Regions from separate parts of the Homo sapiens genome. Here regions 2 and 3 are each linked to region 1. Evidence: fine-mapped expression QTL. A gene starts in region 1. Each other region holds a variant in brackets. All regions are shown on one strand. Distances are between the middles of the regions.

Region 1 (10,140 bases):
CGAGACTCCGTCTCAAAAAAAAAAAAAAAAAAAAAAGAAGTCAGGGTTCTTTGGATGCAAGCAACAAAGACTGACTTTGGTTAATTAGAGTCTCCCCACTCCAAAAATAAAAATAAAGAGTTCACTGGAAGGCTAAGGGCAGTTCACAGAATAGCAAAATCAAAATCAAGGCTCAGGAATAACAGGGTCAGGGTGACTCTCGAAGCTGGGTGACAGGAACTAAGGAACAGGCTCCATTCAAAGCCACTGCTGGGCTATATCGGTTCAGTTGTCTTTTTCTCATTGTATCATATCCTTGCAGATTAAGTTCCCAGAAGGAGGGGGTCTGGTGTTTTCCCTCGTATCTTGCATCCACTGACTTCCCCGAGGATGAGGCCCCCTGATTAACACTCTTCCAAGTCTGCATGAATTGGGGAGGGATGATTACTCCAGAGAGATGGGAAATCAATTTCTTCCACCTGAGGAAGTAGCTTTGGCAAAATCGAAGTATTCTTCTGGGGAAGCAGCAAGACTGCCACTTGGCCGGGGCACCCCGCTGGGGGCTGGCAATGCTCTGCTTGCAGTGGGTCCTGGAGCCAGGCTCCTTTCCTGGGAGAAAGGGGTGTGTTTTTACAACACACAAAGGTGCTGCTATGGACTGAACTGTGTCCTCCCGAGATTCACATATTGAAGGCCTAACCCCTACTGTGACCATATTTGGAGACAAGACCTGCAAGGAGGGAATGACGGTTCAGTGAGGTCCTAAGGGCAAGACTCTGATATGACAGGATCAGCGTCCTAAGAAGGGACACAAGAGGGGGCTGTGCTCTCTCCCTCTCCACTGCATAAGGACATAGAGAGGAAGAGGGTCCTCACCAGAAATCAATGGCTGGCACCTCGATCTTGGACTTTGCAGCCTCCTGAATTGTGAGAAGATAAATTTCTGTTGTTTAAGCCACCCGGTCTATAGTGGTGTTTTTTTTTTTTTGTTTTTTTTTTTGTAGCCTGAGCAGACTAACACAGGTGCCATATGGACTGGCAGCCGATCTGGCCTCTATTCCCTCACCTATGAAACCAGATGGTCTCTAAAGCTCCTTCTAGCTTTAAAATGCAATGTGTCAATATATCCATGAATCATCTATCAATGCATATTTGCTTGCTGCTCAACTAAGTCCTGAGCTACAAATAATAGGAGGCTGTCGAGTAAAATACAGTATGCCCAGTTACATTTGAATTTCAGATATGTTTAAATCCATTTTTAGTGTAAGTATGTCCCACACAATATTTGGGACAAATATTTGAGACATTTGTTAAATCTGGCTGTTCTAGTTATTTGTCTTCTGTTCTCCAAATACTGTAACCTTTTGGAGGGAGAAAAACTGGACCTTACTCATCTTTGGATTCCCTTATGGTGGTGTCTGCCAGCTTTTTGGATTTCACTGACTAAACATTATTGGATTAAGTTTTGGAAGAAAAAACAAATTTTTATTTTGCCCAATAAAGGTATTTATAATAATCATCACTTTACTAAAGAAAAACCAGTTAAACTTTAAAACCTATTAAATAGACTCTCAGGATTTTATAATTAATTGTAAAAATTTAGTTTTACAACATATTCATTACATTATCCTTTTGTTTGCTTGTTTCTGAGGCAACCAGGTGATGCTCTGAACCATTTTGGCACTGCTCAGGTGACCAGTGTTTGGGAGCTTCAGCTGTGCTGTGTTTGGTTGAAGGTCTTATATGACTTCTGGACATTTTTGCTTATCTGCTAGGAAGCTCAAAGTCAAATTGCAGCTTGACCGCTACAGCTGTCTTCTCCTCTCCTTTCACTCCTTGTTTCCTGTGTTTTCTTCCAGGCCTTTAAACTTTTTTTACTAAATGAAGTTTCATTATAATCTACCTTAAGAACTGGTGAAATACAGTTTTTTAAAAAGCCTTGCATACAGTAAGACCTCAGTAAACGATGCTACTGACAAAGCAAAGATGCAACTATTGAGTGGGGTCTAATTAGTTTACTTTCTGAAGATGATTATTCCCCCCAAATGCATTTTTTTTTGTTGTTGAGATGGAGTTTCACTCTTGTTGCCCAGGCTGAAGTGCAATGGCATGATCTCAGCTCACTGCAACCTCCGCCTCCAGGGTTCAAGCGATTCTCCTGCCTCAGCTTCCTGAGTAGCTGGAATTACAGGCATGCACCACCACGCCCAGCTACTTTTTGTATTAGATGGGGTTTTGTAGAGATGAGGTTTCACCATATTGGCTAGGCTAGTCTCGAACTCCTGACCTCAGGTGATCTGCCTGCTTTGGCCTCCCAAAGTGCTGGGATTATAGACATGAGCCACCACACCCGGCCTCAAAGGCATATTTTAATTTCCTATTCTTAGAATTTTAGAATGTTAGAGCTAGAAAGGTAATCACATCTTCTAACTCAATTCCAGACTTACTGAATTGGAATTTCTGGGGTAAGATCTGTGAATCTATAAGAATTCTAGTATCTAACATGAGGATCCACTGGTCCACAGGCCCTCTTAGCATATGTCAAAGCAGGGTATCATTTTACAGGTGAGACGACTGAGGCCCAGGAAAGCGAAGTGATGGTCATATGAATCGGTGACAGACATGAGTCAAGTGCACGGCACCCAGCTTTCTTAGTAAATTAACTGACTGTTGGGAGACAGGAAGGGCAGGGACAGGTGTTCATTAACTAGTTTCTGTTCACACTATACAGTAGGAAATGAGCGCTAGGTATAGAGAAACGGACGATATAAGAGATTTACCTCAAATAATAACAACATCCCTCTCTTACCTGTTCTGGGATTTCACAGTTCACTAAGCACTTCCCCTCATAATACCTTGCTTTGATTCTAATAACAAGATTTACCAAGGTGGTATTGTTTTCTACATTTACTTTACAGATGAGAAAATGGAGGCACAATCACTGGGTATGTCAGGTCAATAAAAGGGGTAGAGCTGAGATTTGAATACTTTCTACTACTAAACCTCACACAGATCCCCTAAGACAGGCAATGTCTTTGTCATTTAAGACAAATGGGCTGGGCGCAGTGGCTCACACCTGTAATCCCAGCACTTTGGGAGGCTGAGGCAGGTGGATCACTTGAGGTCAGGAGTTTGAGACCAGCCTGGCCAACATGGTAAAACTCTGTCTCTACTAAAATTACTAAAATCAGCCAGGCATGGCGGCATGCACCCATAATCCCAGCTATTTGGGAGGCTGAGGCAGGAGAATCATTTGAACCCAGGAGTCAGAGGCTGAAGTGAGCCAAGATTACACCACCACACTCAGTCTAGGCAACAGAGTGAGACTCTGTCTCAAAAAAAAAAAAAAAAAAAAAAAAAAAAAAAAAAAGGAAGGAAGGAAGAAGGGAGATTATTTATTGTTTCAAAAGTCACACAAATTCTACATTATTATTTTAGAAAATTCAAATCATTCTGAAAAATAGAGATTAAAAAGCTGAAAAGTGTATTTCATGCCACTCTGCTCCTGAACAGTTTGGTGACTTTTTAAGTTTCCTTCCCAGACCTTTATGAGTTTACATACATGTACAGGTAAGGATGAAAAAAAAAAAAATCAAACTACACACATTGCTGTGCTTCCTTTTTCTTAGCATGTCTGGTCCATTTTTTCAAATCCTTTAGTAGACTTGTTTGTTTTTAAATGAGCCATGTTTGAAAATAGAACAATAGCAACATTCATATGCACACTGATAGAGAAATGTTATATTTATCACCAATGGTGCTCAGGATGGCTCAGGATGTTGGTGCTCAGGATGGGGTAAAGTGACTCTTTAAGTCTCATGACTAATCTTCTCTCAAGAGGAGGGGCTATGGAATCAGAATCACAAGCTAGCTTAATAAAGCCTTGAGAAATATTATCAAATAGCTGTCTTAGTTTCCCCCTCTGTAAAAGGGGGACAAGAATGTGTTCCATAGGTTGTAGTGCGGTTAAATGAGGTAACTCATATTTATGCTAAACACAATGACTGATGACTACAATGATGACGATGATGGCAGCCGGGCGCAGCGGGTGGGGCTTAAATGGCAAGTATAGCAATACCAGGAATGGATGCCCCGGGGAGATACTTTTTATTAAGAGCTGCCAAGTTAGTATGGCTGTCTGGGATGTCCTCTGGAGACAGCCGACTCCGGGTTTGGAAACCTCAACGTCCTAGGCTTTCAGGACCTAGTGTTTGGCTAAACCTCTGGAGAACTACAACTTCCAGGGTGCACCACTTTCGCCCCGCCCATGACGTTGCAGCTCCCGTTTCTCGCCAGGCTCCCGGCCCGAACTACAAATCCCAGAAGACACTGCAGCCCCGCTCGCGTTCTCGTCTCATCATTCTTACTTTTGGAAGCGAAACTGCGGCCGCGTTGCCTGCTGGGAAATGTAGTTCAGCGGTGGCCTAGCCCTTCAGGCCTGGCCGCTACAATAAGGCTGGCGAACTCGCAGCGCTTGAATACCCGTGGCCTAACCGTCCACTCGGAAGACCGGTCCCGCTCGGGAGGCTCTGCAGTCGCGCCTGGGGTCAGGGCCGGGGGCGAATGTGGCTCGCGTTCTAGGCCTCCCTGGGTGAGAAAGTGGTAGACTGGCAGGAAGGCGGCGGAGGCGGACGAGACCAATGCCAGCCTGGAGGAGGAAGTGGGCCAATGGGAAGGGTGAATCCAAGTGGAGATCGTAGGGGTGGGAGTGGGGCGTGGCGCCCGCTTACCTTGAGGCTGGGTGAGGCTCGCCCCGAAATGCGGGGCGTGGGGGGCGGGGGGCAGAGGTCCCTGCCTAGAGGGGAAGAGGGGCGTCCATGTGGCGGAATGGATTTATGGTTTGGGGCTGATCAGTGGGTCTTATGGCCGAGTCTCTCTGGTTAGTGGAGACAGCTTACCAGGCCTGGGATCTGGGGAGTTTGGAGGTGCAGGAGATCCCTGGTTGGAAACTTAGGCAGGAGTGTGTTACCCAGAGAGACTGAGGGCTTCTGCTGTGCACCTCCAAAACCTTTTCCTAACCTCTTCACCCCTTCCTAACTGCTAATGGTTGGAGAAGGTGGAAGTTCTCTGGGGATAGATACTTCGTGGTGGGGGAGGGGGGAGGGGGGTTGGGTTCTGGCCAAAGGGAGCCCCAGCAGGGAAGGAAGGCTTTGAACCCTATAGCTGCCCAGAGGCCTAAGCAATGCTACTGGAGTACCCCTACATCATCATTGTAACCGTTACACAGCATTACATTAGATGCAGCCTATTTAGTCTGAACCAAGCCAGACAAATTGGTGTGTCCTGCCCGCTGCTTCTAAAATATTGTAAACATGTCTCAGCTCATAGGAAAATAAATGTTCCGGGTAAATTCATGGAAAAAAATAATCAGGGTGCAATATGGAATGTTTACAATGATCCTACTTTATAATAAATTCTTATATCTCCTAAATATGTGCCATTTTGTTATGGATGAAAAAAAATCCGAACTATATACTCTAAATTATTAATTTCAACTGTGGTTATTGATGGCTGGTAAGATTACAGAGTAATTTTATTCTTTTTTGTTTACATCTTTATGTAGCATCTTAATTTGCACAGTGAACACATAATTTTTTTTTTTCTGCTCCTTATTTTCCCAGGAGAGTCAGTCAGTTGCTCCGTGTGTTGTGTTGGAAGTCAGGTCCTAAGGCCAGCTGCTCTGGCTTGCACTGAGCCACAGGCAGACTGATTTGCCAGGAATGATAAAAAGGGGTGAATGTGAGGGGAGAATTCAGTGTGCAGGCTATGGGAGGCTAATGCTTTTTTCCTTCTTCTAGGTTGGAAAAAGACTATGTTAGCAAGTGTCACGCCATGGTATGTGGTTGGTTGGTCTATTTCAGTCTAATCTATTATGCTTTCTGGTTAAAAATGTCACCTTTCTCATTATCTGATGGATTTACGTTGCAATGCATAACTTTCTTAGGTTCTGATAACTCACCTTGGCTGGGCCATGTGAGTTATCAGAAGAGTTACTCACCATTTTGGCAGTGCTTCGAACCATTGAGTTACCATGTGAGTTACCATGTGAGAAGGAGAGAAATATTGCCTCTGAAATGCCTTTTTAGCTTTGGATTTGCTTTTTGCTTTTTTTTTTTTCTTTGAGAGTTTTGTTCTTGTTGCCCAGGCTGGAGTGCGGTGGCACGATCTTGGCTTACTGCAACCTCTGCCTCCCAGGTTCAAGCAATTCTCCTGCCTCAGCCTCCCAAGTAGCTGGGATTACAGGCGTGCACCACCACGCCTGGCTAATTTTGTATTTTTAGTAGAGATGGGGTTTCACCATGTTGGCCAGGCTGGTCTCAAACTCCTGACCTCAAGTGATCCACCTGCCTCAGCTTCCCAAAGTGCTGGGATTACACCCGACCTGCTTTTTGCTTTTTGATCAGGGTCTTTATTTCAGCATATGCTGCCTACTATTTCAGTGTGTGTGCAATTATAAAAGAAACTTTAATACATCCTTTAGTTGTGCTCATTATGCATTTTCTGGGACAAAAGCTTGTTAAAATCATGGTTGGAGTATGACAATTAATACATGTAATGTTCATTTCATTCTTCTTACTTTCTTCCACAGCTTTTGCCAACTTTCCAATTAAAGGTTGACATTCCTGCATAAGCATTTCTCTGTGAAAATGTCCTTGCCTCTTACAGAGGAGCAGAGGAAAAAGATTGAAGAGAATCGACAAAAGGCTCTGGCCCGCAGAGCTGAGAAGTTATTGGCAGAACAGCATCAGAGGACTAGCTCGGGCACCTCCATTGCTGGCAACCCATTCCAGGCCAAGCAAGGCCCATCCCAAAATTTCCCAAGGGAGTCTTGTAAGCCAGTGAGCCATGGTGTCATTTTCAAGCAACAGAATCTCAGTAGCTCATCTAATGCTGACCAAAGACCTCATGATTCCCACAGTTTTCAGGCAAAGGGAATATGGAAAAAGCCAGAAGAAATGCCCACAGCCTGCCCAGGCCACAGTCCACGTAGTCAAATGGCTCTCACTGGAATCTCTCCTCCCTTGGCACAAAGTCCTCCAGAGGTCCCTAAACAACAGCTCTTGAGTTATGAGTTAGGTCAAGGTCATGCTCAGGCTTCACCTGAGATCAGGTTCACACCCTTTGCTAACCCAACTCATAAGCCTCTGGCCAAACCAAAGAGTTCCCAAGAGACACCAGCTCATTCCTCTGGACAGCCTCCCAGGGATGCTAAGTTAGAGGCCAAGACAGCAAAAGCCTCCCCTTCGGGGCAGAACATTTCTTACATCCATTCTAGCTCAGAGAGTGTAACGCCCAGGACAGAAGGAAGACTCCAGCAGAAGTCAGGGTCCTCAGTCCAAAAAGGAGTGAACTCTCAGAAGGGAAAGTGCGTAAGGAACGGCGATCGTTTCCAGGTGTTGATTGGGTACAATGCGGAACTCATTGCAGTGTTTAAGACCCTGCCCAGCAAGAATTATGGTAATGTCTTCATTTTTCAGCTGTTTTTTTTTTTTTTTCTTATTTTTGGAGTCTCTTTTAATCTAACAGTTTCTCATAAATATTAAGAGAGTGCATTGGCACATGCTGTCCATCCAGTTGTTAAAAATTTTTCAATTTTAGCTTGTTTCCCTTCATAATAGTCATTCCCTTAAACAGCTGCCAAACTTGATGGTTGTCACGTGGCCATCTGGAGAACAGTTGAATGTTACTGAGAAGACGCTTCCTCTGCCAGGTGCTTTATATGCATTGTAGCACTTAAGCTGAACAGCAGTTTTTTTGAAATAAGTAGATGTTATTTTAGTTTTTAAGGTGATGGAACTGGCCCAGCAAGATTAAGTGACAGGCCCAGTTTCATTGGTCTGGAAAGGCAGCGTCAGGATGTGACTAGCTCAATTACAGGCCAGAGCCATTACTCCTCATACTGCTTTGCCTGACCACACTACGACCTGGAGAACTTGGATTCTAGTCCTAACTCTGCCCTCAGTCCTCTTAGGTGAAGTTCATAACTTCCCAGGGCCTGAGTTGGATTCCACTACATGGAATAAAAGAATTATCTATATTTACTATTTGTCCTCTACAGAGATTTTTATAGATCAGTGGGGGCTTGCTGGTCAGCTGTTTTGAACTTGGCGTCCTTCATTCATTCATTTAGAAGACAAGCTTGTGTTGAGTGCCTAAGTACAAATTGTCAACAGTCATCAGTCCTCTGTTTTGTTTCAGATCCTGACACCAAGACGTGGAACTTCAGCATGAATGACTATAGTGCCCTGAGTAAGTAGACACATGGTTGTCTCATGGAGGGTGGCACTGGTGCTGAAAATCTTTAGAGTATCACATGTAGTCCAGCTTATGGAGTGCATGGCTTTACAGGTGGTGAAAGCTTTCAGGGCACCCCCCCCAACACTCCTTCCCACTCTGTCTAGCCTAATGAGGCAGCTCTGTGGGTGAAGGCCGTTAGTAGTATTAACAAAAGCTAGCATTAAATGATGCTTGCTTTGCATTAGGCTATTCTAAGCCCCTTATGCTAACTTTTATTCCTTATAATGACTTTTTTACAGATGGGGAAACTGAGGCCCAGGGACGATGAGTCAGTAACACAGGGTCACATAGCCAATAAGTTGTACAACTGGGATTCAAACCCTGACAGTCTGACTTCAGACTACACGTTCCCACCAGACTATGCTGGCCCCAGCAGTGACAGGCAGCTCAGGCAGCCTGCCAGCCCCTGCTCCCAGGAAGGTAACAGTTCAGCAAACAGCACAGATCCTCAGAGTACTCTCTGTGCAGCTAACTACTCAAAAATGCAAGGAGGGGGCATTGGCCAGGCAAGTTCCAGCTAATGCAGTGTCTGGTCATAGTCAGCACCTGGTTACGTCCCTCTGTCTTCTGAGAAAACTGTCATACACTAAAGTTTTTGTCACTTGATCCTGGTACATGGAGCTTGCACACCTGTGTCAAAGCGTCAGCCCTGTGTGTTTTCATCTTCCATTTATTTTACTCTTCTCCCCCAGCTGCCATTTCTACACCGTCTCTTCCTCCCCCTAGCTTAAGAAAGGAAAAGATAAGGATGTATGCTTAGGTCACTTTGCAGATTTGGGGTATGAGGTAGGATTATCTGGAGGCACCAGTACAGTTTCTGGGAAAGGTGGTTTGGGCCAGTGATGGGACAGCTCCCTGCAGAATTTCCTGGTTTTCTCCTTGGCCTCCAATTCTTGAAATGTGTACATTAGGCGATATCTTTCTTTGGTAGCTGCTAGTGTTGTTAGTTTGCGAGGGCTGCCGTGACAAAGTACCACTGACTGGGTGGCTTAAACAATACAAATTTATTTTTTACAGTCCTGGAGGCTGGAAGCCTGAGATTGGTAGGGTTGGTTTCTTCAGAGGCCTCTCTCCATGCCCTGCAGGTGGCTGTCTTCTCTCTGTGTCCTTGTTTGGATTTTCCTTTGTGTGTGCAAATCCCTAGGGTCTCTCCCTTTTCTTAGAAGAACACCAGTCATTGGATTATCGCCCACCTTGGTGACCTCATTTAACTTATTAACCTCTTTAAAGGCCCTATCTCCATATACAATCACATTCTGAGGTCCTGGGCTGTGTGTTTAACATGAATTTTGGAGGGACACAATTCAACCCATAACGCTGCTGCTGCTAGCTCCGTCTAGTGAGGGCTCATTTTTTAATCGATTTATTTGGTGTTGGAACGGGGAGACCCAAGGCTCTGGATAAAGATTGCAGATTTTGACACCTGGTATTCTCATTGCTGGTGATCTTAAACCAGTGGTTTCCCCTGTTGCGGTTGTTTTGTCTTTTTACTCTTGTTCTGACCACGGTGCATGGTGACTTAGATGACTTCTGCTTTTGCAGATTCATTTAGGTTTTTTGTGTGATATCGTTACTTTTTTTTTGAGACAGAGTCTCACTCTGTCGCCCAGGCTGGAGTGCAGTGGTGCGATCTTGGCTCCCTGCAACCTCTGGCTTCCGGGTTCAAGTGATTCTCCTGCCTCAGCCTCCTGAGTAGCTGGGATTTCAGGCGTGTACCATGCCTGGCTAATTTTTATATTTTTAGTAGAGATGGGGCTTCCTCCATGTTGGCCAGGCTGGTCTTGAACCCCTGACCTCAGGTGATCTACCTGCCTCAGCCTCTAAAACTGTTGGGATTATAGATGTGAGACACTGTGCCCGACT
Region 2 (10,140 bases), 53 kb after region 1:
TAAAATGTACTGAAAGAGAAAGTTACTAAAAAAACAAAACCAGATTAAGGAATGGTATGTACAATAAAATTTTATATTGATGTAAAACTAGAAAGAGGTGTGTGTGTGTGTGTGTGTGTGTGTGTGTGTGTGTATGTGTGTGTGTATGTGTATAAAGACCTGGAAAGGTAAACATTAAGGTAATGAGCATTGGTGGACACTGATGGTAATTAAATTGATTTAATTAAATTCAAAAATTTCCTATAGTGCACATGTGCTGCTTCTGTAACTATACTTTTTAAAAGTACAAACAAGATAATAAAAAGTTAACCAATTTAAAAAAAAAGAATCATCTTTTATACAACCATAATTTTGGCATATATAATTTGAGTATTTTTCTATAATTATGTGTGTATATGTTGCTTTAAGATATATTTTTATGTATCTGCATATAAATATATATAAAATATTATATATGCAATAAGCAATATGTGTATTTTAAAAGCAGAACTGGGATCATACAAACACGTCAAGTGGGAAGGAAAACAGGTTACTGTCTTATGAAGACTTTTCCATGTTGTTAAATATTCTCTTAAAACATAATATTTAGCCAGGTGTGCTGGCTCACTCCTGTAATCCCAACATTTTGGGAGGCCAAGGCAGGAGGATCACTTGAGCCCAGGAGATTGATACCAGCCTGGACAACATGGCAAAACCCTGTCTCTACAAAAAATCCAAAAAAATTAGCTGGGCGTGGTAGTGTGTACCTGTAGTCCCAGCTACTTGGGTAGGAGGCTGAGGTGGGAAGATCACCTGAGTCTGGGAGTTTGGGGCTGAGGTGAGCTGTGATTGTGCCACTGCATTCCAGTGTGACAGACAGAGACCTTGTCTCAAAAAAAAAAAAAACAAACCATAATATTTAAAGACTGCATAGTGTTTTCTCACACGGCTATAATTTTGCTAATCGTTTTGTTGGGCCTTTAAGTTACTTTCAATTGCTCACTATTCTGAGTAATACTGTACTGAAAAAGTAGCTTACATAGAAATTTGTGCACATGCAATTTTATAATGAGAATTAGTTTTAAGGAGTAAGTTGCTGGATGGTAGGGTTTTGGCATATTTAAAGGGGGTTGGTACGTTTTGCTGCATCATCCCCAAAAGGGCTAGCCCAGTGTACCATCCCACCAGTCAAGTATAATAAAAGTGTTTGTTTCTTCATACTCTCATCAACTCTAGGTGCTAAATGTTAGAGCAAGATTCCTGAAAGTGCTTCTCAGCAGTTTTCCATCTGTTTGTTTTGCCCTCTTTCTTTCTTATTAGGGAGTATGGCATGAGTGAGTGTAGGTGGGAGGGGTAGGCTCTCTCTGAAGGACACGAGTAAAACTGAAGATGGGGGCCAACTGGGGTGCAGTCTGATGGAGGCACACATGCTGCGAGTGAGGTCATCACATGTAAGCCTGCCCTGCCCCTTTGGCTACTAGAAACTGCATTGGGTTGGAGGGCCTAGCCTGCTCCTGGGGACCGTTAGACGTCCATGAATGGATTTCATGAAGTCTGAGCTCACTAGCCACAGGTGAAAAGTTGTGTATGTTTCCAGAGCGTGATACAAAATAGGAGGGTAGGTGGCTGCCACTGCCAAGACACATGTAGGATATGAAAGGGATTTACAGTCTAATCAGTGACCCCACAGCTTCCTGGGTTCCTCAGCATCTTTCTTTTTTCCCGTAAAGTCCTGGAGGAAAGATACCATTCAAAGCTAAGAAGCTGGCCAGATGCAGTGGCTCATGCCTGTAATCCCAGCACTGTAGGAGGCCAAGATGGGAGGATTACTTGAGCCTAAGAGTTTGAGACGGACCTGGACAACATAGTGAGATCCTGTCTCTACAAAAAATAAAAAAAAAAAAAAAGCTGGTGTGGTGGTGCATACCTTTAGTCCCAGTTACTTGGGAGGCTGAGGTGGGAGGATTGCTTGAGCCCAAGACGCTGAGGCTGCAGTGAGCCATGATCGAGTCCAGCCTGGGTGACAGAGCATGACCCTGTCTCAAAAACAAAAACAACCCCAAAGCCAAGAAGCTGTTTTAACCAGACAGCTTTTTCCTCCATCCATGGTTATTAGTTTTAGGTACAGTCTGGCTGTGGTTGCTTTCCTGAGTTATCAAGATCTCAAGAATGACAGGTTCAAGGCTATAGATGTTATTGCTGTTGAATCACGTCTTTGTTCCCTGGGGAAGCTGTCCTGTCAGTCACAGATCTTACAGAGGCCAGGCACAAGAAGGGGGGTGCACCTGTACTATGCTTGCTGGTGAAAGGAGATGGCCACCTGTCTTGGTCCTTTTGTGCTGTAACAAAATACTTTAGACTGAGCCATCTATAAACAGAAATGTATTGCTCATGGTTTTAGGGGCTGGGAAGTTCAAGATCAAGTGGCCAGCAGATTCAGTGTCTAGTGAGGGCCCAGTTTCTGTTTCAAAGAGGGCGGAAGGAACAAAGAGGCTCTCTGTCCTTATGATCTAAGCATCTCCCAGATGCCCCACTTCCCACCACCACTGCACTGGAAATTAAGTTTCAGATTATGAATTTTGGGGGGACACTCTTACCAATGATGGTAAGAGTATGATCTCTGGGAGGCCAGAGCGATAGTAAATGTTATCTCACATTATTATGAAATGATTTGAGCATCTCCTGTGTTAGCATTCTTTATTAGGAGTCACTTAAATGTAAACCATAAAGAAAACACCGTTTCTTCTTCTGGGAAGTTAATTACCTTATGTGGGAGGTATACCAAGAACACCTGAATAATGGTTTTAAAATGATACTAAAATGGGCCAGGTGCGGTGACTCATGCCTGTAATCCCAGCACTTTGGGAGGCTGAGGTGGGTGGAACACCGGAGGTCAGAAGTTCGAGACCAGCCTGGCCAACATGGTGAAACCCTGTCTCTACTAAAAATACAAAATTAGCTGGACGTGGTGGCACATGCCTGTAAGTCCCAGCTACTCGGAGGCTGAGACGGGAGAATCGCTTGAACCTGGGAGGCAGAGGCTGCAGTGAGCCGAGATCGCGCCACTGCACTCCAGCCTGGGCGAGACAGAGCGAGACTTTGTCTCAAAAAAATAAAAAATAAGATAAAATAAAATGATAGTAAAATAGACTAGTCAGGGTCCATTGGAATTGATTCAGTAAATCTTGGACAGAGGTAAGCTCTGTAAGTCAGGTATAGTCACAGCTTGGCAGAAGAAAAGAGGGAAGCAAAAAGCAAGTTGGGGAAATGTCACATGTAAGTTGTCACCAGGCTGTAGTAAATAGGTATGCTTAGCCAAGGCCACATTTCAGTGGTTCACATGGGTCTGGTGTGTATGGTGAAGCCCTACCTGAAATGCGTCTCCAAAGAGCTTTTGTGTTCCTTGCCTCTTGGATTCTTGCAATGGTTCTTGGACAATGGCAGAGTAGCTCTAATGCCGTCTCTGAGGACAAAACCCGACCCAGGCAGTTCTTCTGACTTGGCCAAAGTGAAAGGGGAATCATTGTCAGCACCAGGGTCTCCTGACTCTGGTGACGGGTGGTTGAGATTTGTAAAGCGCATAGGAGCAATAATTAGATCCACTCATCCCAGAGTTCTCAGACTGGGGCACTTAACATTCTTAACTTATCTTTCAACAGAAACAGCAGCAGAAAGATGCCCTCATTCTCTTCTTCAACAGAACAGCTGAAGCTAAAATCCCATCTGTCATGTAAGTGGTCACTAAGTGTCGACCTCTCTCTCTCTCATCTTCAAAAAAAAAAAAAACAACTTATTACTTTATTCTGCCTGAATGATTTTACTGCGTCTAAGAAATGACCAGAGATTATTAAATGTGCCTTTTGTTGAGGAAGGAAAAAATAAAACAGATGATCAGAGAGTAGAATTATAGCTGCCTTGAAAATAAAGTTTAGGGGCCAGGCTCAATGCCTGTAATCCCAGCACTTTGGGAGGCCAAGGTGGGAGGATTGCTTGAGTCCAGGAGTTTGAGACCAGCCTGGACAACATAGTGAGACCCCATTTATACAAAAAATGAACAGAATTAGCTGGGCATGGTGGCATGCACCTGTGGTCCCAACTACTCAGGAGGCTGAGGAGGGAGGATTGCTTGGGAGGGAGGACGGTCGAGGCTGCAGTGAGCTAAGGTGGTGCCACTGCACTCCAGCCTAAGCAAGAGACTAAAACCCTGTCTCAAGGGAAAAATGAAAAAAGTAAAAGTTTAGGGCACCCTGCTGTTAATTACACACAAGGCATAAGTTGGCCGGTAACTGGAGCGACTACTAGGATGTACCTGGGTCTCTAAGAGATCCTGTCTTGAGCCAAGTAGGCTGGAGCTGCTGCTCGTTAAAAGGAGGGTGGGGTTGTCCCCAGCACCAAAGGGGAGAGTTTTTCTAGGAGGACTGTGATCATTTGCCTTTAGGGAAAAAAAAATTAGAAGGAAAAGCTGCCTTATGGGGATACTTGGGTCTTCCCCAAGGTCAGGAATTGTCATCCATTACTTACCTAAATAAAAAGACAAATGTCAAAGTTTGTTCAAAAGATATGGGCATATGGCCGTTGTCACGCCTAGTTCTATTTCCACCTTATAAATTAAAGCTAAAGTAATAATTTCTATTCTTACAATTATTCATGACAAAATCTCAATTGTATGCCTTTCTTAAAGAAAAACCCACTCCTATTTAAATATCACTGGGGTAGAAACCTGGCAATTCTAATGATGTGCAGTTTGCCTGATTTTTTTTTTTGTTTAACATTCATGTGATGCTCTGGCAGGATAATGGTCCAACTGATGAAATTACAATGAGAATGGATTCCGTAGGGCTGAGTGGTGCCAGACTGGCTGTGGGGACTGAGATCTGGGGATAAATTAAGAAATATATCTGCCCCATCCTCGTACTTGGCCCACCTACCTCTCCACACCCTCCACTGTGGCAAGAGAGCTCCCCACACCACTCGATCTGCAATGCCCCCTGGAAAGACTGCCCAGTGCTGGCCTCCTCCCCTTCACCTCCTGGGCACTGCCCTTTTCATTTATGACCCTGCTAATGAACTCCAGATGTGGTTTTTATGGCCTGGAAACTTTTCTCCCAGAAACACATCTGAGTTGCCCCCGCTGACCCATTTCTCATGTGCTGTGGAATAACAGATGGCAAGGGTGTGCGTTTCTCCCTTGCTCCCTCAGCTCAGGACCTGCAAAATTCAGAGTCCACCAGGTGCCTCTCTCTTCAGATACTGTGCCCAGAGCCACCCATTTCCCTTAGAAATTTTAAGTCTTTCTACCACCTCATAAATAAACTTTGGTCATACCTTATACATACTTTCTCAAATTTCTATTATACAATAAATTGTATAGTGCTTTGTAGTTTCCAAACATTTTTTACACCTGTGAACTCATTTCACATTTACAGCATCTTTGTGAGATCATGTAAGTCACACTGGCTCCATTTTTAAAAATGCAAACACTGAGTAAATCTATGACTCTCTGGACCTCAGAGTCACACAGCTAGTAAGTGGAAATTAGATTGTATGTCTTCAAAACCCCAATTTCCTCAGCTAGTTGTTTTTCTTTTCTTTTTTTGCTGTTGTTTGTTTTTTCATTTTAATGGGCATCTTTTAATATAAAAGCCAAGGTTATTGTGGTAGGCAGATATTTCCAGCCTAGGAACTTGTAGAAGGTTATAGAACAACAAAGCTGTGTATGAGATATAGAGGGGAAAGACGCATTAGGAAAATTGGGGCCTGTGGTTTTTATGAGCTCACCAAGTGGATTTTGTGGCCTTGTGACTTTTTGATGCTGTAGCCGTAAACTTTTTTGCTTATATCATGGCAAATTTTATGTCTCTCAAAATAATTAAAGTAAATTCTATTAGTATCAACAATTCACAAATTGAACTCAAATCTGGTGCCCTGGTCAGTCATAGTGTTGTTTGAAATGACTCTTGGATGTTTACAGGGCAGTCCACGTACCTTTCCCTCACCTGAGACATATCCTTCTTTAAGGAAGGCAGAGTCTGTTCCCTGTCCAGACGCACCCATGGCTGGCAATGGCCTCAGCAAAGGAGCTCACTTGCCTGTACTGGGCTTACCTCTTCTTTGGGATTGTGATCCCTCTTCAGGGAGCTACCAGGGGAGGGGGCACCTAGCCAGGGTCTGTTAACCTGGTGACTTCCCACCCCACTGCTCCCTGAGGGTAGCCACCTTAAGGCCAAGCGAAAGATAAGAGGTGGGAAGCTTGCCGGGTGCGGTGGCTCACGCCTGTAATCTCAGCACTTTGGGAGGCCAAGGTGGGCAAATCACTTGAGGTCAGGAGTTTGAGACCAGCCTGGCCAACATGGTGAAACCCCATCCCTACTAAAAATACAAAAATTAGCTGGGCGT[T/G]GTGGTACACACCTGTAATCCCAGCTACTCAGGAGGCTGAGGCAAGAGAATTGCTTGAACCCAGGAGGTGGAGGTTGCAGTGAGCTGAGATTTCAGCACTGCACTCCAGCCTGGGCGACAGAGCGAAACTCAGTCTCAAAAAAAAAAAAAAAAAAAAAAGGGTGGGAAGCTAAGAAAAAACACAGTGGCTGGAAGAGAGATGTAAATTAAGGGAGGCCAAACAAATGAGAACCTTCTCTCCATAGTCCTCTGCCTTGGAAGAGAATTAACTGACTTAACTACTGGCCCTGTCATTTGAGGTCTAAAGTGGGAGGAGCTGGAGATCCTTCTTGGAATGTCTCTTTAGTATTATGTATGTCTCAATATTTAGCTTCTAGAAATTTGTGTACTGTCATTAATTCCTTAGTCCCCTCCCTAAATGCTTTCAGATCTACAGAGGACACTCTAATTTGTATTTAAAACACATTATAATGATAGTCGGAGGTAAAGTGAAAACTGTTGATCATCTTCTATGATCCCAGATAATAAGAATGTTTCAGTAACATACCAGAGACACATAAAACATAAGGAGTATATGTTTAATCTGTTTTGTTGTCATTGTCAAATGCAGTGAATATATCTTGGACCTACTGGAAAGTGGAAGAGAGAAGTTTTTAGTATTTGCACACCATAAGGTGGTCCTGGACGCAATTACGCAAGAGCTTGAGAGAAAGGTGAGCTCCCTTTGAAATTCACCATGGGCTACTTTTGCCATGTCCCAAGTTGTTCTAAGCAGGCTTAGGTCAGATCCAAGCAAAGTGAGACCGATGGCTTCCGGAAGCATTGCTGAAGACTTTCTGAAGAAGAGTTCTTGCTTGTAGAACCACAGTGGGGTCAAAATGTTTCCCCAGCCATGTCATTTTAACTTCCTCCATGCTCCAAATAGATATCCCAGGAGTCTTGCTTTAGGAACATCTCCCAGGGGCTGTTCCATTATTCTGCATAAATAATTACAAAGTTGGCAAGAGAGGAGATAGCAAAATTGTCCTTTTGTATGGAGACAAGTATTTATGTGAATGTTTTCCTCTTTTCCTTCCTTTCATTCCTCCTCAGCACTGTCAAAGCACTTTTATTAATTCCACATGGCAGTGTGCAGACATTAGTAGAGAGTTTTATGGCTCTCCTGAAATTGAACGAAAGGGATCTAGAAGGATTTCCAAGGATGTTTATGAAAACTGAACACATTTCATCCCCTTTTCATTTTTGGTTAAATTTAAGGCTGTAAATTGCTCTTTGTCTTCCCTCATCGTTTATATTTATATAACATTTGAATGTACTTTAAGAGTACAGAGAAATATACAGCAAATACCCATGTATCTCCCACCCAGATTTAATAAATGAATTTATTTCAAGGTTTTTTTATTTTGAGGCAGAGTCTTGCTGTGTTGCCCATGCTGGAGTGCAGTGGCAGGATCTCAGCTCACTGTAGCCTCCGCTTCTCAGGTTCAAGTGATTCTCGTGCCTCAGCCTTCCAAGTAGCTGGGACTACACCACCTCACCTGGCTAATTTTTGTATTTTTAGTAGAGACGGGGTTTCACCATGTTGCCCAGGCTGGTCTTGAACTCCTGGCCTCAAGTGATCCACCTACCTCGGCCTCCCAGAGTGCTTGGATTACAGGCATGAGCCACCACACCCAGCCTGAAGGTTTATTTTTTTAATAATAAAATACTTAGGTCCCCTCAGTATTCTAACTTTATTCCCCTTCCATCTCTCCAGCAATAACATCACTATTACGAAGGCAATGGGTATCCTTGCCCTCCATGTTGTCATACTATATTCTAGGAGTACGTATCCATAAGCAATTTATCGTCTCCTTTTTGCTTATTTTTAAAAATTTAAAATAAATGACAGCACGGTGTAATTATCCTGCAACTTACTTTTTTCTCAGCATTGTTTTAGAGATTTCTTTTTTTTTTTTTTTTTTTTTTGAAACAGTCTTGCTCTGTCCCCCAGGCTGGAGTGCAGTAGCACGACCTTGGCTCACTGCAAGCTCCACCTCCCGGGTTCAAGCTATTCTCCTGTCTCAGCCTCCCGAGAAGCTGGGACTACAGGTGCCCGCCACCATGCCTGGCTAATTTTTTTGTATTTTTAGTAGAGACAGGGTTTCACCGTGTGTTAGCCAGGATGGTCTCGATCTCCTGACCTCATGATCCGCCCGCCTCGGCCTCCCAATGGAGATTTCTTTATACTGCATTACACGTATAGTTCATTCACTGTAACTGTGGAATTGTATCTCATTGGATAGCTATACTGCAGTTTATCCATTCTCCTGCTGATGGTTGCTATCGTGTGAATATTATAGTAGGTGTATGTTTGTATCTATGCATTTCTTTATGGCTTGTGTATGTGCTTTGTGTAGGGGAGGCATATTCAGGCATGCTCTTGCATGGTTATTAAATAGGTTCATCTTCATACTAAATGTTGTCAAATTGCTCTCCAAGGTGGTCATTCACATTTATAATCTCACTAACAACATATAAGGGTTCCTGCTGTTCTGTGTGCCCATTAACACTGGTATTATCCAACTTTTTAATTTTACCAATCCAGAGAAATGAAATATCATCTCATTCTTGCTCTAATTTGCATTTCCCTGACTACCAGTAAAATGTGTATCATTTTATTTATTTATTTATTTATGGCCATTTTAGCTGTCTCCTGTGAATATTCTGTTTGTATCCTTTGCCTGTTTTTCTGTTGGATTGTTTTTTTCTTACTGATTTAGGAAAATTCTTTATAAATTCTGGATATTAATGTTTTATCAGTTATCTTTTTATCTTTTAAATTTATTTTGTTGGGGAGGGGGGTCTCGCTCCGTTGCCCGGGCTGGAGTGCAGTGGCTTCATCTTAGCTCACTATAGCCTCCGCCTCCTGGGTTCAAGAGATTCTCATGCCTCAGCCTCCTGAATAGCTGGGATTACTGGTGCACACCACCACGCCCAGCTAATTTTTTTGCATTTTTTTAGTAGAGACGGGGTTCCACCATGTTGGCCAGGTTAGTCTCAAACTCTAGGCCTCAAGTGATCCACCTGCTTCAGCCTCTCAAAATGCTGGGATTACAGATGTGAGCCACCAGGCCCAGCTGGTTTAATTGAATTCTAATAAAAACTCCAACTAGATCTTTTTTTTTTTTTTGAAGCAGAGTCTCACTGTATCTCCCACACTGGAGTTCAGTGGCACGAATGCTGCTCACTGAAGCCTAAACCTCCTAGGCTCAAGTGATCCTCCTGCCTGAGCCTTCCCAGTAGCTGGGACCTCAGGAATGTACCACCACGCCTTGCAAATTTTTAAATTTTTCTGTAGAGACAGGGTCTTGCCATGTTGCCCAGGCTTGTCTAGAACTGGGCTCAAGCAATTCTTTTGCCTCAGCCTACCAAAGTGCTGGGATTACAGGCATTAGCCACCGCACCCAGCCTCCAGTTGGATTTTTTAAAGGGAACTTTATACTGTTACTCCCAAGAACATCTCAAAAAAAAAAAAAAAAAAAAAAAAAAAAGCAGGAGCGATATCTAAACAACTATGAAAAAGAAGAGCAATGTTGGAAGACTTGTCCCTTCAGACATTAAATATTAAAATCTGTTATAAAATACCAATAATTAAAATTCAGCCATGCTGGCCCCAGAGAGATGGCCAGATGGTGGAATAGAATACATGGCCCTTTACCATAAATGGAAAGCAAATACATGATCAAGGAATTGTCACAAATCCGTTTTCAATTTCTTCAACAA
Region 3 (10,140 bases), 84 kb after region 1:
TTAATTAAACTCTGTTAAATTTAATTTGTTGAAAGTTTTCCTTTTAACATACCTTATCCCACTTAAGAGTTGCCAAGTAACTACTCCAGTCTTTATGTGTGCACTTCCTGTGTAAATGCTCTGTGACGGGTCCATTAATAACTAGAACGAGTTTAAATGGAATTTGAGGGGAGAAGGAGGAAAGGAAAGAGGGGTTGCCTGAGTCAATTTCCCACACTCTTATTCTTTCGGGGCATCCAGGACTGCCTTGGAGGGCCTCACCTTTCCTGCTGGGTCAGCTCTTGCCTGTGGCTCTGGCCTCACGGGACTCTCAACAATGCTGTGCAGGCCCCACTCTTGTCTGTGGCCCCCAGGGGCTTTGTGGAGAGCAGGCTCTCTTGAGGCATGAAGTGAAGGAACCACGCCCCAATAAACCCTTTCTGTCTCCAGCACAAGATGAATTTGGAATGATGCTTGCACCTCAGATTTCTTTCAAGAATAAAATGTTCCATATGCCCCAAGAGAACTGGTTAACAGCTACAAGAACTCCTCTCTGGAGGTGACTTTTAACTTATTTATTTTTCTAAAGGCAAAGAGTGAATGTTGAGGGCTCCTTAAGAGCAGAGGTGAGCCAGCAGTGATTTTTACTGAGTCTTTTATGGGGACACATTATAGTTAACATTCTCCACACCGGATGGTACTCTAATAGGGATGGAAATTTATGAGCCCACAGAAAAGACAAATTGAGACTTTAGGAGAGGGCCGATTCTCTGAAGTCACTCAGAGCTGATTTCATGAGTGCTATTTGTACATCCTCAAGCTTGCTATTTAAAGATAATTGTTCAGTTTTGACAAAATTGCTCTGAACATGAACAATTTCCTCCTATTATGGAGTGTCTCATTTTCAGCCGCTTACTGCATTCCTACTCATGCATTCCCTCTTCTCTTGCTCTCTCTCTCAGACCCCCCTGAAGGCCAGAGACGTAGGAGGCTCTGCAGCGGAGGGCGTGGGGGAGGCAGCACATTTGCTAAATGATGATCTGAATTAGGCTCTAGTGCCAGCCCAGGATGGCTCACCTCAGCTCTGCCTGGACTGCCCCAGCATGAAGCTGACTCACCCACTCCCCAGCTCAATTGAGCACCATCCTGTGTGGCCAAGAGGCACAGTCTGAAAAGGGAGGATCATGGTGAGCATTTGTTTAAGACTCCTTCCACTAGTCTCCTTTGTTTGTATCAACATGGATATATTTTTGTTTTAATTTATAGTTTTCTGGAGGCAGGCATTGCTTGGGTGGAGAGCTTTCCAGATAACATCCCTGAAATGCAGTGCATTTCCCTTCTGAGGGAAGAGGGACTTGTTCCCTTGGCCCCTTGCCATCTTCCACCCTAACCTATGGGGGCAGAGGGTGCATGAGGCCTGTGGTGGAAGAGAAACATCTTGGGCACATCTCACTCCCTTTGTGGGCCTCAAGCGGCATCAGTTACCATGACTGTAGTGGTTTCATTGTGTCCAAGCTAAAGAAATTAAGGAGAAAAGAGATGGGCATATTTTTAAGGGAAAGAAGAAGGCAGATCTTCTGTACTTCCTTGAGTATGGCAGAAGAGGAGAGAGGATTGAAAAGGCAGAAAGAGATGTTGAAATCAGGTAGCAGCAGCAGCAGCAGCAGCATCTCAACAAACATACTGGCCACTATTTTAAAATGTTCACTAGACACTTCATGGAAGTTATTTTATCTTCCTGAGACCCTTTATTGTACAGTATACTCATTTTGCAGCTGCGGAAAGAGACTTAGAGACTTGAATCATGTGATACAGTGGAGCGAACACACGTTTATGTGTCACTTAATGGCTATGTGACCTTGGGCAAGTCATTTGACCCCCCGGGCCTCAGTTTCCAGTTTGGGCTACATTATCTCTAAAGCCTTTTTCAGTTCTGACATAACTGGACTGACTTTACAAAGCAGAGAAACCCAAACACATGAAACGCTTCATATACCCATCACCATTATACCATGCAAGGTAACAATCCCCCATTCAACAGACATTACTGCTGACACGTCAGGCTCTTGTATAGGTCCTGGGATGCAGAGGTGAACAACACAAGCCCTGTCCTCATGGAATTGACTTGTGGTGACCTCCTTGGGTGGTGGTGGTGGTTGTTTTAAAATAGACTTTATTTTGTAGAACAGTTTTATAGTTATATAAAAAAATTGAGGAGAGAGTATTTTTGTATACCCTTACCCAATTTTCTCTATTGTTAACTTTTTTTTTTTTTTTTTTTTTTTTGAGATGAAGTCTTGCTCTGTCGCCCAGGCTGGAGTGCAGTGGCACGATCTCAACTCACTCCACCTCCACCTCCCAGGTTCAAGCAATTCTCCTGCCTCAGCCTCCCGAGTAGCTGGGATTATAGGCATGTGCCACCATGCCTGGCTAATTTTTTGTATTTTTAGTAGAGATAGGGTTTCACTGTGTTAGCCAGGATGGTCTCAATCTCCTGACCTCGAGATCTGCCTGCCTCAGCTTCTCAAAGTGCTGGGATTACAGGCGTGACCCACCGCGCCCGGCAACATCTTAACATTAGTATGGTAAATTGGTTACAATTCATAAAGCAAGATTAATACATTATTATGACCTAAAGTCTGTAGTTTATTCGGATCTTCCTAGTTTTTAACGTATTGTCTTTTTTTTGTTCTAAGATTTCATGTTACATTTAGTCATCATGTCACCTTACGCTCCTCTTGGCTGTGACAGTTACTCAGGCTTTCCTGGTTTGACAGTTTTAAGGAGCCCTGGTCAGGTATATTGAAGGATGTCCCTCTTTTGGAATTTGTCTATTGTTCTCATGATTAGACTGAGGTTATGGGTTTTGGGAGAAAGATCACAGAGGCAAAGTGCCATTTTCATTCCACATCAAGGGGACATAGTAACAAGATTATCACTGTTGATGTTGACCTTCATCACCTTGGCTGAGGTCGTGTTGGCTATAAAGTTACTCTTTTTTCCCCTTTCTATACTGTGCTCTTTGGAAGGAAGTCATTCTGTGCAGCCCACACTTAGGGAGTGGGGAGTTATGCTCACCCTCCTTGAGAGCAGAATATCCACATAAATTATTTGAAATTCTTCTTGGCCGGGTGCAGTGGCTCACACCTGTAATCCCAGCACTTTGGGAGGTCGAGGAGGGTGGATCACGAGGTCAGGAGTTCAAGACCAGCCTGGCCGTTATGGTGAAGCCCCGTCTCTACTAAAAATACAAAAATTAGCTGGGTGTGGTGGTGCATGCCTGTAGTCCCAGCTGCTCAGCAGGCTGAGGCAGGAGACTTGCTTGAACCCAGGAGGCAGAGGTTGCAGTGCGCCCAGATCATACCACTGCACTCCAGCCTGGGCGACAGAGCAAGACTCGGTCTCAAAAAAAGAAAAAATAAATTCTTCTGCAAAAGAGAGTTGCCTCTTGTCTTTCATTTATTTAGTCTATCATTTATTTATATCCACATGGACCCATGGATATTTATTTTACACTTGGGTTAAATCAATACTACCTTATTTATTGCTCAAAATTTTCTAGCTTTGGCCATTCGGAGTTCTTTCAGTTGACTCCTGTGTCTCTCTGACATATCCCCATCAGTGTAGGGTTTTCTGAACATTTCCTTACTTTCTGGCACAAGATACTGCAGGCTCGCCTTGTATATTTCCTGCTGCAGTCCTAGAATGAGTCACTTCTCTAAGGGGCCCTGGTTCCTTTTATTAAAGAATGATATTATAAACCAAGATCTGGGGTCTGGGCATGGTGGCTCATGCCTGAAATGCCAGCACTCTGGAAGACTGAGGCTGGAGGATTGCTTGAACCCAGGAGTTCCAGACCAGCCTGGGCAACATGGCAAGACTGTCTCTACAAAAATAAAAAAATTATTTGGGCACTACTCAGGAGACTGTGGTGAAAGGACTGCTTGAGCCTGGGGAGGTCAAGGCTATAGTGAGCTGTGATCACACCACTGCACACCAGCCTGGGGAACAGAGCAAGACCCTGTCTCAAAACAAAACAAAACAAATAAAAACAAACCCTGAGATCTGGGGCAGTAGGTATACTCGTCGTTACTGGAGATGTTTGGGGTTTTTTTTTTAATGGTAGTTTTTTTAGATTATAAAAGAAACACATGCTCATTATAAAAGATAATTAGAAAATGCAAAAAATGTATGCAAAAATCAATTTGACTATTCCCACTATCCACTACTTTTTGCTTTTTCTCCTCCTTGAATTTACACAGCCAGAGCTGGAATAACAGATTGGGGAGGATAAAGAGACAACTACCTTTATTCCACAAAA[T/A]TGTGCAAGATGTGCTGACATAAAGCACATGGTGGGTCACTGCCCCAGTGGCACTCAAAGTCTGGAAGCTCTTCCTGGAATCATAGGAGGGAAGAACTGGACAGGACCTTGAAGACCACCTGGTCCAGCTCCTTGTAAATAAAGATGGTGGCTGCTGGGAGGTGGGGAGGTGGTTCTCCATGTGGGGACTGTGGCTTACCTAAAGTCAAACCACAAGGTAGTTACAGATCCTGGCCCAGACTGAGTGCCAGGGACCTGATTTTAATTCAACTATGTTTTCTGATGTGCTTTTTCAGTGCACTAAATATTATGATTTGGCGTAGTACAAGCTAGCAATTAGGAGAACTAACTTTGGGATCAGACAGACCAGATTTGAGTTCTAATTGCTGTGTGACATTGAGCAAGTTTCTTAACTTCCCTGAGATGAGTTTCTTTTTTCTTTCTTTTTTTGTTTTTGTTTTGAGAAAGGATCTCACTCTGTTGTCCAGGTTGGAGTGAAATGGTGTGATCATAGCTCACTGTAACCTCTGAACTCCTGGGCTCAAGCAATCCTCACGTTTCAGCCTTTTGAGCAGCTAGAACCACAGATGTGTGTCACCATACCTGGCCTATTATTTTTTTGTGTGTGTGGAGATGGGGTCTCGCTATATTGTCCAGGCTGCCTAGAACTCCTGGTCTCAAAGAATCTTTTCCAAGAGAGACTCTGTCTCAAAAAAAAAAAAAAAAAAAAAAAAAAAAGAAAAAGAAAAAAGAAAGAAAAGTATATAATAACTTGTCAGAGGTCCCACAGCTGGTAAATAGCAGAGTTCTGTTTTGAACCCATACTGAATCCAGAGCCTCTAAGTTCCTAATCATTACATGAGACTTCCTCTCTTTTTCTTAGTAATGAAGATAATAATCATTCCTATCATAAAGGATAATGGAAAATTAAATGAGAACATCCACATAAAATACTCAGTGCCTACCATGTGTTACCCTCCAACAATTGTAACCATATGAAGTACATAGCTGTTTGCAAGTTGCTTTGATTTGATTTGATTCATATATATTTTTTGAGACAGAGTCTCACTCTGTTGTCCAGGCTGGACTGCAGTGGCGTGATGACAGCTTACTGCAGCCTCAACCTCCCAGGCTCAAATGATCTTCCCACCTCAGCCCAGGTATGCAAGTTGACTTTAATACAATTGTGAGGAAAAGTGAACAGGTGCAAAATTATTTGAGACAGTTAATATTAAGCTTTGGGAACGGAAGCTACTTGTTACCGGACTTCTGATTGGAATCAGGGCCACACAATGCCTTTCAGCTCCCATGGTCTTTCTTGGCCCTCTAATCATGGATTCTCTCTTACACTCTTATTCCAGTAGTTTTCTGAGCTTCTTATTCTCTGGATTAGCCATCCCCTGAAAAAAGGCAACCAAACTTCCTAGTGTGTGTGTTCTACGTGAAGAAAGAAGATCATGTGTCTAGTTCCAGAACACACCCTCCCCACCCCCGGCCTCAACCAGAAATCCAATTCTTCCCTGCTGACCCCTTTGAGAGACCTGGAGGGACAGAGAATTGACGGTGGGTAAAGGGTAAGATGTTGGAGTTTAAGGGTTCAGGCCTGGACCAGGAAGCTGTCTTAACAGCCTAGTGTGGGGCCATGGAAGTGAGTTCTGAAATGAAGTGGAAGGCAGGCCATCCGCACTGAGATGCAGCAGCTGGAACACAAAACTCCAAGGTGACTGTTAACTTTTCCCCAGCCTTCCAATCTCAGACTTTCCTCAGGAAACACCAGGCTCTTCTGAATTAGTCGCGAGCAGAACCATCGTCCTTTCCTTCAGAACTCTGACCAGTTTGAAACTGTCTAACTTCTTAATGTGGCTATATGATCGTTTGCAGCTGGCCTGCAACTTGTTCTGGGAATGGAACCTTGGATTTTAGTCACCACTGTCGCTAGCATCCTGCACAGTCAGCCACTTTTAGAGAGCATAATGCAGAGGGGGAAATAAATGAGATTTGGAATAGAGACGGGGTTTCACCCTGCTGGCCAGGCTGGTCTCGAACTCCTGACCCACCCCGCCTCCCAAAGTGTTAGAATCACAAGCGTGAGCCACCGCGCCCGGCCCCACAAATGTAAGATTTATGCACTTCTCCAAGCCAAGTGCTGTGCATCGAATGGAGGAACTCGTACCTTTGCAGGATTTTGTGATATATGTGAAATAATCCGGACATGCTTCTGCTATGGTTGTTTGTCGCCATAGTTTGCGAATCTGGGTAAACCTGGATGAGAGAGACGCCTTACAATTGCAAACATTTCTCAGGAGGCCGCCTGAAAACGCCCAAACCATAGAGCTCAGTTCCTAGCTAGGCCTCTACCAGCCACTTCCGCTCGTCCGCCTAATACCGCGCCTGCGCACCGCGTCTCTTCCTTTCTGGGCTCGGACCTAGGTCGCGGCGACATGGTGAGTGTGGGTCTCTGTGCGGCCTAGAACTCTATCTGCCTGCATCTGTCCTTGTTTTCTTCTCCCGCACCCATCTCCTCTCCTGCCTTACCCCGTGTTCTCTCCTGTCTCCATGCCTTTGCAGGAGACACCATTGTCGGAAGCTCCCCAAGGCGGAGGGGCGGGGGCGCCTTGGCTGGGCCTGGCGCGCTCCAGCCGGGTTAACGCCGGGCCTTCGGAGCGCGCGGCCAGCCCTGGGCACTGGTTTCGTTGGGTTGAATTTAGGGAAAACTAGGTCATATGTAATTCACATGTCGGTCACACGTCAGTGAGGTGGAGGAACGGTGTGTGGAGGCTCCAGGGCCTGCCTGGGTTCCAGGTCTATCACTGGTTTCTCCCTTCACTCTAAACAGGCCAAACGTACCAAGAAAGTCGGGATCGTCGGTAAATACGGGACCCGCTATGGGGCCTCCCTCCGGAAAATGGTGAAGAAAATTGAAATCAGCCAGCACGCCAAGTACACTTGCTCTTTCTGTGGCAAAGTAAGTAAGGCAAAGTCTCTGGTGAGAGGAGAGGGAGGGCAGGTTTCTTACCCAAGTGAGGCCTGACTTCAAGGTATTTTATAAGCCGTGTGCTGGTGGGCAGTTGGAATTACTCATACCGTTGATTATGAGTTTTAAGATAAAAGTGTTGATGGTAACTTCAGATTTTGTGAGACGTTTTTCATTTAAAGAAAACCGCTTAAACGTTAATGGGTAAAATAATCATTTGACAGAGTGCCCCCAGCCTAAGCCAAACCTGCTTTGTGGGAAATGATTCCATCAGTTTTGTCTACTGATGTTTCTGCACCAACTCCCAAGATGTCTGTGCATCTAATACCATTCTACTTGTTCTGCGAGGGATTTTTGTTTGATAAAGGTTTGAACGTTTATGTGCAAAATACTGCATTACAGCAATCCCTGTTTTGTTTTTGAGGGAGAAAGGGAGGCTTTCACATCCCTGACAATAAGGTGAATCCAAATTTAGACTTCTGGATGCTTGTAAGAGAAAATACTTACTTGGTTCATAGTGAAAATTGGTTCTCTTTTATAGACCAAGATGAAGAGACGAGCTGTGGGGATCTGGCACTGTGGTTCCTGCATGAAGACAGTGGCTGGCGGTGCCTGGACGTACAAGTGAGTCTAGTTCCTTGTGGTATTTGGAAGTGTGTGGACCACATAGGCCCAAATTCCAGGTTGCTGCTGGATGGGCTAGTTTTAACACTTTCTCAGGACTGAGAGAATAAGGATGCCTTTGTATTTTCAGGATTCTTCCGTGGTGGTTTATTTTCAGTTATTGAAAGAGTAAACACAAAACTACCAAAATAGAAGTCGGAAATCTAATTCACAGACTACTTTAGAATTTGATGGTCACTGGGCACATTGTTGTGAACATTGTCATGATACTGTGCAGGTCCATTAGTGGGGCTGAATCTACTGAACGTTGATTTGCACTGCAAGTTTTGATAAAAATAGGTGAAGGGGTCAGTTAGTTCAAAACTGTATTTGGAACTTGAGGCCATCAGGACCACCACAGTTTCGTCTTTCTGAACAGTATTAGACTGCTGCAGGTTTGTGAATCTGCAACTCAGTATCACCTGACAGGGCGATACTACAAACACTATACTACAAACTAGCATCTAGACCTGTGTTGTCCAATACACTAAGCACATATATGGCTAGTGTAATTAAAGAATTGGATTTTAAAGTTTCAGTCAATTTAAACTTAAACCGAAGCAGTGGAAAATGTTGAAATATATATATATTCCTTGTGGGGGTTTTTATTAGGGCAGAATGGAAAATGGGAACTAGAGTGCTTTCTTGGTTCTGATAGGAAAGTGAATTATTTATATACTTACAATACAGGATGGTGATTTTCAGGTATAGTTCCTGAATTTTATGGTAAAACTTTTGTAGTCATTTCAATAGCTGTCTTTCCCAAAGGCACTTTAGTGTCCGCTCTTATTTCCTTAATCATTGTTCTCACTGTATCATCTTGTAATTTATTCATTTCTTGTAATCTGTCCATTCCCTTTTAATAAGTTTAGGTCAGCCTCTTAGAACCATTTCTTTTTCATGGGATGGGGTAGGGGGAGTTAAAGCTTGCTTGTCCACAACTGAGTTACTTATAAAAAAAAAAGCAACTCTGGTTGAGAAATCAGATGCATGAGATTGTATGTCTAATTCTGCAAGATCCTGAAGGCATGGCTCTTAAAGGATGCCATCATGTAGTTTAGAAGCCACTAATTTCCGAGGAGTAATCTAATGTTGGTTAGATCTTTGGATTGACTGCAGCAAAGTATTGGTAGAGCAGTCTATCTCAGTATAATTCTTTCTAGGAAAATTTGGGAAGCGACTTTAACACAAAAACGAGGCAGATTTACTTATTTGCCATTTTCTATGTTAACATGCTTAATTATGTTGGAAACTGAATCTTTCTTTCCAGTACCACTTCCGCTGTCACGGTAAAGTCCGCCATCAGAAGACTGAAGGAGTTGAAAGACCAGTAGACGCTCCTCTACTCTTTGAGACATCACTGGCCTATAATAAATGGGTTAATTTATGTAACAAAATTGCCTTGGCTTGTTAACTTTATTAGACATTCTGATGTTTGCATTGTGTAAATACTGTTGTATTGGAAAAGCATGCCAAGATGGATTATTGTAATTCAGTGTCTTTTTTAGTAGTCAAATGGTAAAATGCAGCATAAGAATATAAGTCTTCCAAGTTAGATATGAGTGTTAGCTTTTTATAAGTCTGCTCCTGCCAGTTTGACTTTGAGATACATTGGAGCCAACTGTAAACTTTAGTTTTTAAATTACAGTTAGTTTTTTTGTTTGTTTTTGAGGCGGAGTCTCTGTTACCCAGGCTGGAGTGCAGTATACCAGTCTTGGCCCACTTCAACCTCCACTTCTTAGGTTCAAGCGATTCTCCTGCCTCAGCCTCCTGAGTAGCTGGGATTACAGGCACGCACCACCATACCTGGCTAATTTTTGTATTTTGAGTAGAGATGGAGTTTTCACCACATTGGCCAGGCTGTTCTTGAACTGACCTCAAGCGATCCACCTGCCTTGGCCTTCCAGAGTGCTGGGATTACAGGTGTGAGCCACCACGCCCAGCCTTGCATTTAATATTTTTATAATGTGTCTAGGCTGGGTGCGGTGACTCACGCCTGAAATCCCAGCACTTTGGGTGGCTGAGGCAGGTGGATTACTTGAGGCCAGGAGATTGAGACCAGTGTGGCCAACATAGCAAAAACCCGTCTCGACGAAAAATACAAAAAATAGCTTGGTATGGTGGCACATGCCTGTAATCCCAGCTACTTTGGAGGCTCAGGCACAAGAATCACTTGAACCTACGAGGCGGAGGTTGCAGTGGG

Direction of the effects. Alleles are on the strand shown, and positions count from the first base shown. SD is a standard deviation of normalised expression in the study named. Not every link is listed here.
For the expression in stomach of the gene that starts at base 4,406 in region 1, G is the high allele of the variant in region 2 and T is the other (small effect, 0.23 SD a copy in GTEx).

The links. PIP is the estimated chance that this variant, and not a neighbour inherited with it, causes the effect.
Region 2: its variant is fine-mapped to the expression of SMARCAL1 in stomach (GTEx, PIP 0.91).
Region 3: its variant is fine-mapped to the expression of SMARCAL1 in whole blood (INTERVAL, PIP 0.90).

What each region holds. Positions count from the first base shown.
Region 1 is chr2:216,408,079-216,418,218 of GRCh38, forward strand. SMARCAL1 (SNF2 related chromatin remodeling annealing helicase 1) reads left to right here and starts at 4,406. Exons shown (of 18, transcript NM_014140.4): 1 at 4,406-4,570; 2 at 5,778-5,814; 3 at 6,569-7,437; 4 at 8,179-8,229. The coding sequence starts at 6,627. It overlaps SMARCAL1-AS1 (SMARCAL1 antisense RNA 1), which reads right to left and starts at 4,422. Exons shown (of 5, transcript XR_001739881.1): 1 at 4,347-4,422. RefSeq lists enhancers at 4,168-4,462, 4,206-4,295, 4,426-4,515, 9,676-9,735.
Region 2 is chr2:216,460,959-216,471,098 of GRCh38, forward strand. It overlaps SMARCAL1 (SNF2 related chromatin remodeling annealing helicase 1), which reads left to right. Exons shown (of 18, transcript NM_014140.4): 13 at 3,639-3,709; 14 at 6,986-7,088. Among named protein-coding and RNA genes, the nearest start is that of RPL37A-DT, 33 kb to the right of the region's middle. The variant T/G (reference allele first, on the strand shown) is at 6,376.
Region 3 is chr2:216,492,134-216,502,273 of GRCh38, forward strand. It overlaps RPL37A (ribosomal protein L37a), which reads left to right and starts at 6,711. Exons shown (of 4, transcript NM_000998.5): 1 at 6,711-6,744; 2 at 7,137-7,265; 3 at 7,816-7,898; 4 at 9,208-10,140. The coding sequence starts at 6,742. The coding sequence ends at 9,271. RPL37A-DT (RPL37A divergent transcript) reads right to left here and starts at 6,619. Exons shown (of 4, transcript NR_183317.1): 1 at 6,474-6,619. RefSeq lists enhancers at 434-493, 6,128-6,217, 6,398-6,787 and a silencer at 3,956-4,025. The variant T/A (reference allele first, on the strand shown) is at 4,301.